2 separate regions of the Homo sapiens genome follow, and region 1 is linked to region 2. A link means that fine-mapping ties the variant in region 2 to the expression of a gene that starts in the linked region. Tissue or cell type: prefrontal cortex. Region 2 holds a variant in brackets; the other region holds the start of a gene. All regions are shown on one strand. Distances are from middle to middle.

Region 1 (5,363 bases), 25 kb after region 2:
GCTGCTCCCTCCCACTCCTGCCCCGTCCTCCAGGACGCCGCCCGCTGGCTTCCCGCCTCCTCCCAGGCTGCTGCCTCTGCCTGGCCCGTGCCGCCCGCCCTTTTGCCCACAGCCCACCTCCTGATGTTTCTCTGTCCTCCCTGAGGGTTCCTCGGGGCGGGCAGTGCCCCCCATGCAGCAGCTGGCTCGTGAGAAATCCTGACATCCCACCCACCCCACATGGGAGGTCCTTCCTCGGCTCTGAGCGTGCGGCCCCACACTCCCGGCTCACCCCTCGCCTGGCACTGCCCTTCCTCGGCTCTGAGCGTGCGGCCCCACACTCCCGGCTCACCCCTCGCCTGGCACTGCACCCATTCACACGGCAGCCTCACAGCCTTCCAGGGGCAGAGGGTCCCGGGGCCTGAGCGAGTGCAGGCTGGGGCCAGGCTCCCTGTTTCCCTGTTCCAGGTGCAGCCTCCCCCAGGGCAACTCACTTGGGAGCTGGAGACAGGGGGCCAGGCTCCTGGGAAGCCAGAGACCTCCCTGGGAGAAGCTGGAGACTCACAGCCCCCACCCCCACCACTTACACACACACACATACATACTCTCTCTCTCTCTCTCTCTCTCTCTCTGCCCCTGCCCACCTGGGCTCCTGCTGGTGCTGTACCTCCGGGGTGGCTCAGGCCTGATCAGCCCCGAGATCCACTGGCGGTCACAGCCTCGCTGTCGCAGGGTGTGAACCAGAGCTGTTGCGGCTCACAACCAGCTGAGAAGTTTCCATTACGGCGACACTGAGCAGTGGCCTCAGCGGCCCTGAGGGCCCCGGCTGACTTGCTGCTCTCGGGACAGCCCGGTCCATGGGGAGGCCGTCAACCACGGGCTTGGTGGCCCCAGGAGGAGCTGGGCCTCCTCAGTCTCCCAGCACCTTAGTAGTTTGGCCACAGGCCTAACCCAATGGCCCTGGGGCTGCAGATGCAGGTTGTGCCTTCTTCCGGTGGAAGAAGACTGGGACCATGGACACTGCCTCGCTGGCCTTTCCTCTGCAGGGCGGAGGCAGAACACAGCCAGGCGGGGTGGCTGGGCTCCTGGGAAAAGCCTTGGCTCCCAGCCCAACGCTCACCACTGGAACCACGCTGGCAGCTCCCCAGACAACATGCGTTCTCGACTTAAGTAAGAGGGAGAACTTGTGGGGAGGCCCCTGGCTGGGCTGACCGCCCACTGGGCTTGCTCAGGTGCCTGCAGGCCCTACCAGGTAGGAACAGGAGCAGGAGCTGCCTGGTGGCCCCCTGAGGCCCCTCTCCATGCCTAGATGGGCCCTCACATCCCGAGGTGCAGTTAGGGCTCGAGGTAGCAGCAGTACCGGGTGATGGCTGCTCATCTGCTGGGTGCAGGGGCCACCCTAGGCCTCGAGAGCTCCAGACAGACAGGGCGGGGGACCCCCCCAGGCCCTTCCTCCCATATGTGGAATGGGGGCTGTTTGCCAACTGTCCAGGGCACTGCAAAGCTCAGTAGTGCCCAAGAAATGGCGTGGCGTCCAGTGCTGGGTGGGGGTCCCATGGCCACACAGGGCAGGACAGGGATTCCTTCTGACTGACGGCTCAGAAAAGAGCCAGTTCTCAGGGATTCCCAAACACTGAGAACTAGGCTTCAGTTACTGGAGTAACGAATCCATTCCTGCTAGGCTGGGCCTGCGTAGACTTGCCCTCGGAGGATGCCCCCCACCAAGGCCCTTCAGGGAAGGCTGGCTGGGTTCATGCCTGGCACGGCTGCCTGCATTCCCCTGAGAGTGCAGCCCCTTCTCCCACTGCCCAGGCTGTTTCGCGCAACATCAGGTGCCCTTTGGAAGCTCCTGTGTGGCCAGGAGCACCCCCGCTGCTAAGTTTGAAGTGGCCGTGTTCCCTGCTTCCCCCAGAGGCGGCCTGGCCTCAGTGTGGACACAGGGCCGGCCTGGGACTGTCTCCGTTTTAGGGAAACCATCAGTCCCAGGAGAAGGGGGAAGGGTGGCCACTCTGGAGCTTGTTCAGGTCACTCAGGATCATCAGTGTGTGCTCTGCCCAGTCTCTGCCCACACCTGCTGCCCAGCTGGGGCAGGTTCCCCACCTGCACCTGCCTTTGGCAATCTCTCCGCTCTGCCCAGTCTCTGCCCACACCTGCTGCCCAGCTGGGGCAGGTTCCCCACCTGCACCTGCCTTTGGCAATCTCTCCGCTCTGGCATCTTCATACCCAAGCAGGAAGTGAGCCCCCTCTCCCTGGGGCTGGAACTCACCTGGTTCCCTCCTGGCTCCCCGAGGGACAGAAACAGGCTCTTCGGGATCTCCCTGTGGGGCACAGTCCAGTGAGGTCCTGGACCCTCTTGGCCGGCAGCACCCCTCCCAGGCCCTTGAGAGTTGAGCCTCGGGCAGAACTGCAGGGCACACAGGTGAACGGGCCAGGCCCGCCCAGGCCTCCTTCCCGAGGGCTCTGATCTGGAGGCGCCACCGCCCGCTGGCAGGGCCGGGTCTGTTGTGGCCTTCGTCCCGTCTCCAGCCCTCTCTGCTGGATCGCAAAGCTGGGCCAGCTGGCAGCGGCCAGGCTATAATTACCTCTCCCCTTTGGCAGAAATAGCAGTGAACCCGAGGACAGGCCGCTGGCCCCGGAGCAGAAGGGGGTGGCTGTTTCCCAGGCCCCCGGTGGACAACAGACCATGATTTCAGATAAGACCAGAGTTTGCTGCTGTTCCTACCCCTCCCGGCCCAAATGTGCCCCCTCCCAGGTCAATTCCAGAGCTGTGCAGCTCTTGGAAAAACCTATGGATTGGAATTCGGGGCAGAGTGGGAGAGGGAGGGCACTGTGGGGCTGCGGGAGGTGAGGTGATCACAGAGTCCAGCCTCCAATAAGACCCTGACCCAGCATGGGGCCTCCGTGGTGGCGAGAGTGCCCGCCCTGCCCCAGGCCCCTGTGCCCCTGTGAGTCCTGACCTGGGGTTGCCAGAGGGAGAGGCAAAGAATGGGTCCCAAGCTGCCGTTTTGGGGCACACTGGCCGACCCTCGATATTGCCCTGGCAGGAAGGGGCAATGTATGGGTCAGTGAGCGATGGCAGGGGTGAGGGATCAGCCTTTCTCAGGGTCTGTCCTGGGTGGGCGTCCAACTGCCCTGCCTGGCGCTGCTGAGTCTGCCCCTCATTTGTAGGTGAAAGTGCAGCTCAGAGAGTTGAGGCACCCTGTCCAGAGTCACACAGCCCGGAGGTGGTAGCCTGGCTCAGGCTTGGTGGCCCGTCCTCGCCAGCCCCCCCGTCTGCTGGTGCATGTAAAGGCAGGTCTGAAAGAGGCTGGTGAGGGCATCACTGGCGCAGGGCACCACCACATGTGGGCAGACCCCTGCCTGGTTTGTGGGGCTTTGACCTGTTTCAGGGGACTGCTGGAGGAGGTGTGGAGAGACCCGTGTTTCTCCATTAGGAATGGGGGTGCATCTCCCTTGGGTAAAGCTACAGGACCCCTGGGAGCCCAGGGTGTGCCAGGCTGGGGGACAGTGTGCACAGAGGGTGACTGCTCAGGGCCAGCCGTGGGGCTGCATGGACACAGAGTCCTGGAACCCACCGTCAGAGCATGAGCAACGCAGCCACTGGGATGGGGTTCAGCAGACCGGCCCTCCCCTCACTGCCGTCTTCAGTACAGGGCATGGGGGAGCAAACTTTTCTCTTACAGGGCCATATGGCACACAGTGCGCTCTGTGTCTACACAAACGGGGTGGGCCAGATTGGCAGGAGGGCCTTGGCTCGCTGACGCTTGTTCCAGGGAGAGCACTGAGGAAGGCTGGGTGGTCCTGCTGGCAGTCTGGCTTCCTGGGAAGAGTGAGGTCCTGTAGCCAGACAAGACCCTCTCCCGCCTGTGCCCAATCTGGGCGCTTATCCTTGGCTTCCCAGGGCTGGAGCTGCTCCTCCCAGATTTCAGAGGTCAGGCTGCACTGCCCGAGGTCGGGGGGCTCCGGGACAACTCCTTCCTGACCCTTCTCATTGACAGAGGGGAGGGAACGGTCAGCCCACAGACCTTGGGTGCCGCCCCCTCTCTGTGCTCCCTGGAAAGGCGATGCGGGCTGACCCTGTGGACATTCGCTCTGGGTAATTTATTAGTGAGCTGATGGCTCGGCTCAGGGCTCAGGTCCCAGCGGGGTCATATTTCCGGCCGTATCTGATAGGGCTCGGCTGCACCCTCCTCGCCTCCGTCCATTGCGCCTCACTCCAGCCTGGGCTCTGCAGGGCAAGATAAGGCTGGCCCAGGGGAGTGCTGAGCTGCCGGGTCCGCGGAGGGTCCCCAGTGCCTGTGCCAGGCAGTGCCAGGGAAGAGCCCAGTTGTGTCAGGCCTGCCTGCAGCCGGCAGGTGGGCACATGTGCCCACGGGCAGTGGTGCCAATGACGTGGTGCCCAGGTTTGGGCCCAGCTCTGTCACTGTTCAGCCAGGTGACCTCCGCCACACCCTCATCTCTCCCCGGGAGCTGGGAATGATCGGATGCCCCACCCTCCCCAGATCTTTGTGGTGCACCCACCCTGAGCAGTGCCCCGGGAACACAGCAACTAAGGCCAGCTGTCATTCAGCGGGAGGGCGGAGCATGTCCAGTGGCTGGGCACTCCTGAGCGCTGGGAAAGTCCAGCGAGCTGGCTGGGCTGGGCTGTTTCCTTGGGGTGGTCCTGGAAGGTGGCCGGGGTGGAGTAGGGCGGCACGTGGGAGTGGAGGCTGCAGGGGCTGGAGATTGTGGCTACTCTGGTCATGGCCACGTGGTGCTGGCCTAGACTCCCAGCTCTCCCTGGACCATGGTCTGGCTGGAGTGCGGAGAGCCCTGGGCCTCAGCATGGCCTCATACATGGCTCCAGGCAGGGTCGGGGGTGGGGCTGGAGGGTGTGGAGGCCCTAGGCTGACCTGGGCCAGAGAAGAAAGGGCCGGTGGGTGGGGGAGATGGGGGTGGGGTCCACAGCTGGTTGAAGCAGAAGGACCCCAGGCACAAGAGAGGCCAGCGTTGGCCCAGGGGGTGGGAGTTGGCCGTGGCCCTCTTGCGCAGAGGCCTGGAGGCTGGCCCTTCCCCTGTCTGGCATACAGCCCGGGGGGAAATTCGTGCAGGCTGGCCGACTGCAGCACCAGGGCTTGTGGTGGAAATGGGTCCAAAGGTTCTCCAGGCGTCTCCGGGGCTCAGGGCTGCACCCCTGTCAGCTGAGGCTGTCCTGAGCCCAGCTCCCTCTGTGGTAGTGAAAACGCCCAGCTGAGGCTGTCCTGAGCCCAGCTCTCTCTGCTGCAGTGGGAATGCCCAGCTGAGGCTGTCCTGAGCCCAGCTCCCTCTGTGGCAGTGAAAACACCCAGCTGAGGCTGTCCTGAGCCCAGCTCTCTCTGCTGTAGTGGGAACACCCAGCTGAGGCT
Region 2 (5,363 bases):
TTTCTACATGAATTTCAGAAGAGACAAACATTCAAACTATAGCAGTGACCTCATCCAACCAGTTGAAGGCCTGAATAGAACCAAAGACTGACCCCACCTCCCAATCCCCCTCCCCCCACCAGTAAGAGGGAGTTCTGCAGCCACGACATTGAACCACAACATTGACTTTTCCTGGGTCTCCAGCCTGCTGGCCCACCCTGCAGATTCGAGACTTACCAGTCTCCAAAATCACATGAGCCAGTTCTTTAAAATAAATCTCTCTCTTTCTCTCTTTCTCCATCTTATTGGTTCTGTTTCTCTGGAGAACCCTGACTAATACAAACAAGATAAGTCTTTGATTTTTGAAGGTAAGTGGAACTAATCACAGACATGCCAGAGTCTCGCACCTTTGACCTTTGAAAATGGCAGATATTTAATCATCTTTCCAGCCTAGTCTGCGGTTTCCAGTGCTGGCGGTTCCCTGTCAGTTGTCATGGTCTCCTTCATGTTGGCCAGAGTCTGGAAGTGTAACACCCCCAGATGTGTTCAAATTGGTCCAACTGCTGGATAATGAGTGGATGGAACTTCCACTCTTGCCCAAGTTAGGGGAGGGGGTGAATTTCCTGAGTGAGCTCCCTTTGGGGAGAATTGGGGATACTCCAAGAGTGGTAAAAACCCTGAGTGGATTCTCCAAGAGAAGAGTGGCCGTTGCTGACCTCGTGGCTGGCCTTCAAGGCCCGACTTTAAAGTGACTGCAAAATGAAATGCAATCCACAGAAGAGAAGAAGTTGCAAATGGTGGCAAGCGTAAGAAGATATGCTCAGCCTCATGATGCCAAAGCAAGTCCAAGTTCACACAGCAATGAGCGCATTCTGTGGAAACTGGCAGGATTTGCCTACAACTGCTGTTTCTCAGCCAGCGAGGGGAGGGGTCTACAACCCAGATGTGAGGGTAAATTTGAACAACATTTTAATTTTTTTATTTTTATTTTTATTTTTTTTGAGACCAAGTCTCGCTCTGTCGCCCAAGCTGGAGTGTAGTGGCGTGATCTCGGCTCACTGCAACCTCTGCCTCCCAGGTTCAAGCGATTCTCATGTCTCGCCCTCCCGAGTAGCTGGGACTACAGGCACCCGCCACCACACCCGGCTGATTTTTTTGTATTTTTAGTAGAGACGGGGTTTCACCATGTTAGCCAGGATGGTCTCGATCTCCTGACCTCGTGATCCACCCGCCTCGCCCTCCCAAAGTGCTGAGATTACAGGCGTGAGCCACCGCGCCCGGCTGAACAACATTTTTAAAGCCGGTTTGGCAATTTCTGTCAACATTTTAAATGTGCATACCCCATGACCCAGCAATTCCTCTTCTAAGAATTTCTCTTATAAAAATGCCTGTGCAAGAACGCAAACATATGTGTACAAGAATGTTCACATGACAGCATTTGAGACAGCAAAAACTGGAGACACAAAACATCCACCTTAAGAGGAATAGTTATGCAGATTGTGGAATCATCATTATAATGGAGTCTTATGCAGTTATTAAAAAGAACAAAATAGGTGTATGTGTAGGCAGGGAATAATCTCCTTGACATTTTGTTGAATAAAAGAATCAGCCTTCAGAAAACTATGTATGGTATGAAGCATTTTTGTTAATTCTGTGTGTGTGCTTATGTGCTTAGCAAAATGTCTAGAAAAATAGATGCCAGGCTATTGAAGTGGTCACCCCTGGTAGTGTGATGGGGTAGGGGAGGGGGATGAGGAGAAGGCTTTCTATTTTATTGTATACATATCTCTATTACTTGACTTAAGAAATGAGCATATATTACTTAGTCAATAAAACAAAAATATTTTTTAATGCTTGCAACAAAAATGCTGATGGAATTTTAAACCAGGAGGAGCAATGTTAAGGCTTCCTCACTCTGGGAATTGGACTAAAGGTGACTTAGTCTTAAAGGCAACTAGAAAAGGCATTAATTCTATTAATTAATGCCTCAGCGATTT[C/G]CATCTCAGCAAAGATGTCTTAATGAGGCGCTCGGGACACCCATTATTTATCTTACAAATGCAGCTCCAGGGTCCTGCCCATGTCAGGCAGTGTAACACACGTCCCCGCGGAGGGCTGGCGCTGCAGAAGCTCCCGGTCCACCCCCTCCTGCCCACACCTGGCCTCACCCTCCCCATCTCTTCGAGGATGACCTCTGTCCCAGTCCCTTGGACCCCGACTCCTCCACGATCTGGCCCCTCCCCTCATACATTGCATTTCGGGACCCCCGCAAAGGAATCACTTCAGCCTGGACTGCAAACCGCACTCCTACACCTCACTATGAGCACCTTGGGGGTGTCCTCCAACACCCCCCGCCCCGCCCTCTCTCTCCTGGTCTCCTTTCGTTCGAGCTGATGAGGAACTGACGACCCAGAGTCGGCCTGTGTGAGGCCCGTACAGGTGGCTCCCGAAGTCTTTAGCGGCACAGGGTCGGTCCCTCCAGGCCGACCTGGTAAAATTCCCGCATCTCCCGCAGGCCGCCCTTCTCTGGCCCCTGGACCCCGGGCTCCTGGCCCGCGCGCACCAGGAGCTGTCCGCGGTGCTGACCGCAGGCGCTTCCCGCGCTCGGCCGATGCGCACGCGTCCCGGGAGGGGCGCGCGGGACCTGCCGGCGCCGCCACTGCGCAGCCTCCCGCGGCCTCCCCGCCCGGCGCAGCCTCCCGCGGCCTTCCCGCCGCCGCTCTCGCCCGGGCCGGCCATGGCGCTCAACAATTTCCTTTTCGCTCAGTGCGCCTGCTACTTCTTGGCCTTCCTGTTCAGCTTCGTGGTGGTGGTCCCGCTGTCCGAGAACGGCCACGACTTCCGCGGCCGCTGCCTGCTCTTCACCGAGGGCATGTGGCTGAGCGCCAACCTCACGGTGCAGGAGCGCGAGCGCTTCACGGTGCAGGAGTGGGGCCCGCCGGCCGCCTGCCGCTTCAGCCTGCTCGCCAGCCTCCTGTCTCTGCTGCTGGCCGCCGCGCACGCCTGGCGCACGCTCTTCTTCCTCTGCAAGGGACACGAGGGGTAAGTGGGGGCCGCTCCCGGCGCGGCGCCCCTTCCATGCCCCCAGCGCCCCCAGACCCACCTCCCCGGGGAGGCGCGCGAGTCCCTCCGTCTCTCAGGCAGCTCCGAGGCCCGCAAATGTCAACAATCCGCCCTCACCCCCTCCACTCAGACCGCCCTTTGTCTACACACACATCCAGGGACCATGACGACCACCGGTCCTGCGTACAAGGCCAGTGCCTCCCCTCCCCAGCTGCGCATCACCTCCCGCTTCCGGGCATCTGCTCCCTTGGGTTGCAGATGTTGCACTGTCATCACCCAGCAGGCCTGGACCTTCCTGGGCGGGCTCAGCCGGGCCACACTCGCCAGGACCGGCGACAACTCCCAGCCCGGTCTAGGGCTTGCACTGAGCTCTCCAGGTCCCAGTGACAAGGCGAACTGGGGAGCCCCACCCGGCACCATCGCCCCGGGAAAGGGACGGCAGATGGCTGTCTGGAGGGGAGCCACCCAGGCCCACCTCGAGCTCAGGCCTTGGATGGGGAGCTGGAGAGAGACTGCAGGGCGAGGGCTGTGCCTTGTGGGCTCAGCGCCTTCCTCCTCCTGGCCTGCATTTTCCTCTTTCTCTTTCCTGCTCCGGCTAGATACTGGAGCCCATACAACCTGGTTCACCTGGGGTGCGGTGACACCCTTAGCCAGTGGCACCCTGGGGGCCCTCTGGGGGCCCACCCACTCCCTCTGCAGGTGCTCTCTGTGAACCCTCCCACTCCCTCTGTGAGCCCACCCACTCCCTCTGTGAACCCACCCTCTCCCTCTGTGGGTGCCCTCTGTGAGCCCATCTACCACCTCTGTGAATCCACCCACCCCCTCTGTGAACCCACCCACCCCCTCTGTGAGCCCACCCACCCCCTCTGTGAGCCCACCCACTCCCTCTGTGAACCCACCCACTCCCTCTGTGGGTGCCCTCTGTGGGCCCTCCCACTCCCCTGGCTGAGGCCTGCTGTGCCCAGGAGCAGCCCGAGATCCTGTAGAGGTTCCGGGAGAGCACTCATGAAACCCAGGCTCCTCCCAAACTCTGCCCTCACCCCCATCCTTTGTTGTAGGTTTTCACTTCCTGCACGCAGGTGGGAGATGAGAAGGGCTCAGAGGGGTGTGGGCGGCAGGAGTGGGGAAGCCCTCCTGTTGCCCCCGCTGTGAGCCCACCGCTTGGTTTTGGCTGAGAGAGGGGCCAGAGAGGGGAAGAAGAGGGGCTTCAGGGAGAAGGGAGGGAGCCAGGGCTATGCTGAGTGGGGCTGCAAACTCTGGAGGAGGAATGAGAATCCCAGCGCCTGTGGGTAGGAGCGCCCTGGGGCTGCTGCAGCACAGTTGCACCAACTGGACTGAAACCCACTTGTCCCACCACCCTCTGCCGCTGTCCTCACAGGGCGCCTTTGCTCTGCTCTGTCCTCCCTCTTTTTACAGGGACACCAGTCACTGGATTCAGGGCCCACTCTAAACTCAGGGAGATATCCTGAGATCCAGAGCTTAATTACACCTGCAAAGATGCTATTTCCAAACAAAGTCACAGTCACGGGTACCAGGGGTGGGACTTGGGCATATCTTTCGGGGGACACCATTCAACCCACGACACTAAGGTTCTGGATGGGGGTCAGTAGAAAGCTGGCTGTCAGCCTGGGAGGACCCAGGTACTGTGGGGCCATGGGCCCAAATTGTGTGGCTGGAGCCCTGCTCAAGGTGGGGTCAGGCCGGGCGCAGGGTGGTGTCCTGCCCATTTGCAGCCGTCCTCCTTCCCTCAGCCCACTCCAGGGCTGGTGTCCCAAGAAGAGGCTTGAGACGTCATCTGCACCCATGTTGCCAAACCCAAGAGTTGCCCAGTCCATGCTGTGCATGCAGGGCAGGCAGGTGGAAGCCTCCCTGAATGAGACAGGTGTGAAGAGGGAGTGGGACAGCCAGCGAGTAGGGTCAGCCTCCCAACGCTTGAGGTCCCTTTAGTCTGGGAAGCTGAGGGTGGAGGGTGCAGGCCAGGTGGGGCCACAGTTGGTTCATCGCTCACGCACTTCTTCACCTCCTGGGTGTCCCTCAGGGTGCCTGTGGTCCAGCTGGGGCTGACAGAGGGTGGCTCTCTAGATAGGACCCAGCTATGTGGTCAGAGTGATGGGAGATTTTATAGGGGGTTCCACCAGAAGCTGGGGGACAGGGAGAGGGGAGAAAAGAGCCCCAGAGCTTGCAAGACAGGAGTCCAGGTCGCACAGGGTATGGTCTATTTCGCACACACTGGGCGGCAGGCCCAGGGATGCCGTAACAGCAGCTCTGCCTCTTGCCATCTCACGGAAGGTGACTGTCTGTCAGCCGTGGCAAACTGCCAGCAC

Direction of the effects. Alleles are on the strand shown, and positions count from the first base shown. SD is a standard deviation of normalised expression in the study named.
In carriers of allele C in region 2, the expression in prefrontal cortex of the gene that starts at base 2,485 in region 1 tends to be higher than with G alone (moderate effect, 0.41 SD a copy in BrainSeq).

What was found. PIP is the estimated chance that this variant, and not a neighbour inherited with it, causes the effect.
Region 1: it holds the start of C14orf180, and the variant in region 2 is the best candidate, but not a certain one, in a credible set for the expression of C14orf180 in prefrontal cortex (BrainSeq, PIP 0.88).

Annotation. Positions count from the first base shown.
Region 1 is chr14:104,576,886-104,582,248 of GRCh38, reverse strand. C14orf180 (chromosome 14 open reading frame 180) reads right to left here and starts at 2,485. Exons shown (of 5, transcript NM_001008404.3): 1 at 2,246-2,485.
Region 2 is chr14:104,602,092-104,607,454 of GRCh38, reverse strand. It overlaps TMEM179 (transmembrane protein 179), which reads left to right and starts at 2,683. Exons shown (of 4, transcript NM_001286389.2): 1 at 2,683-3,018. The coding sequence starts at 2,714. The variant C/G (reference allele first, on the strand shown) is at 1,977.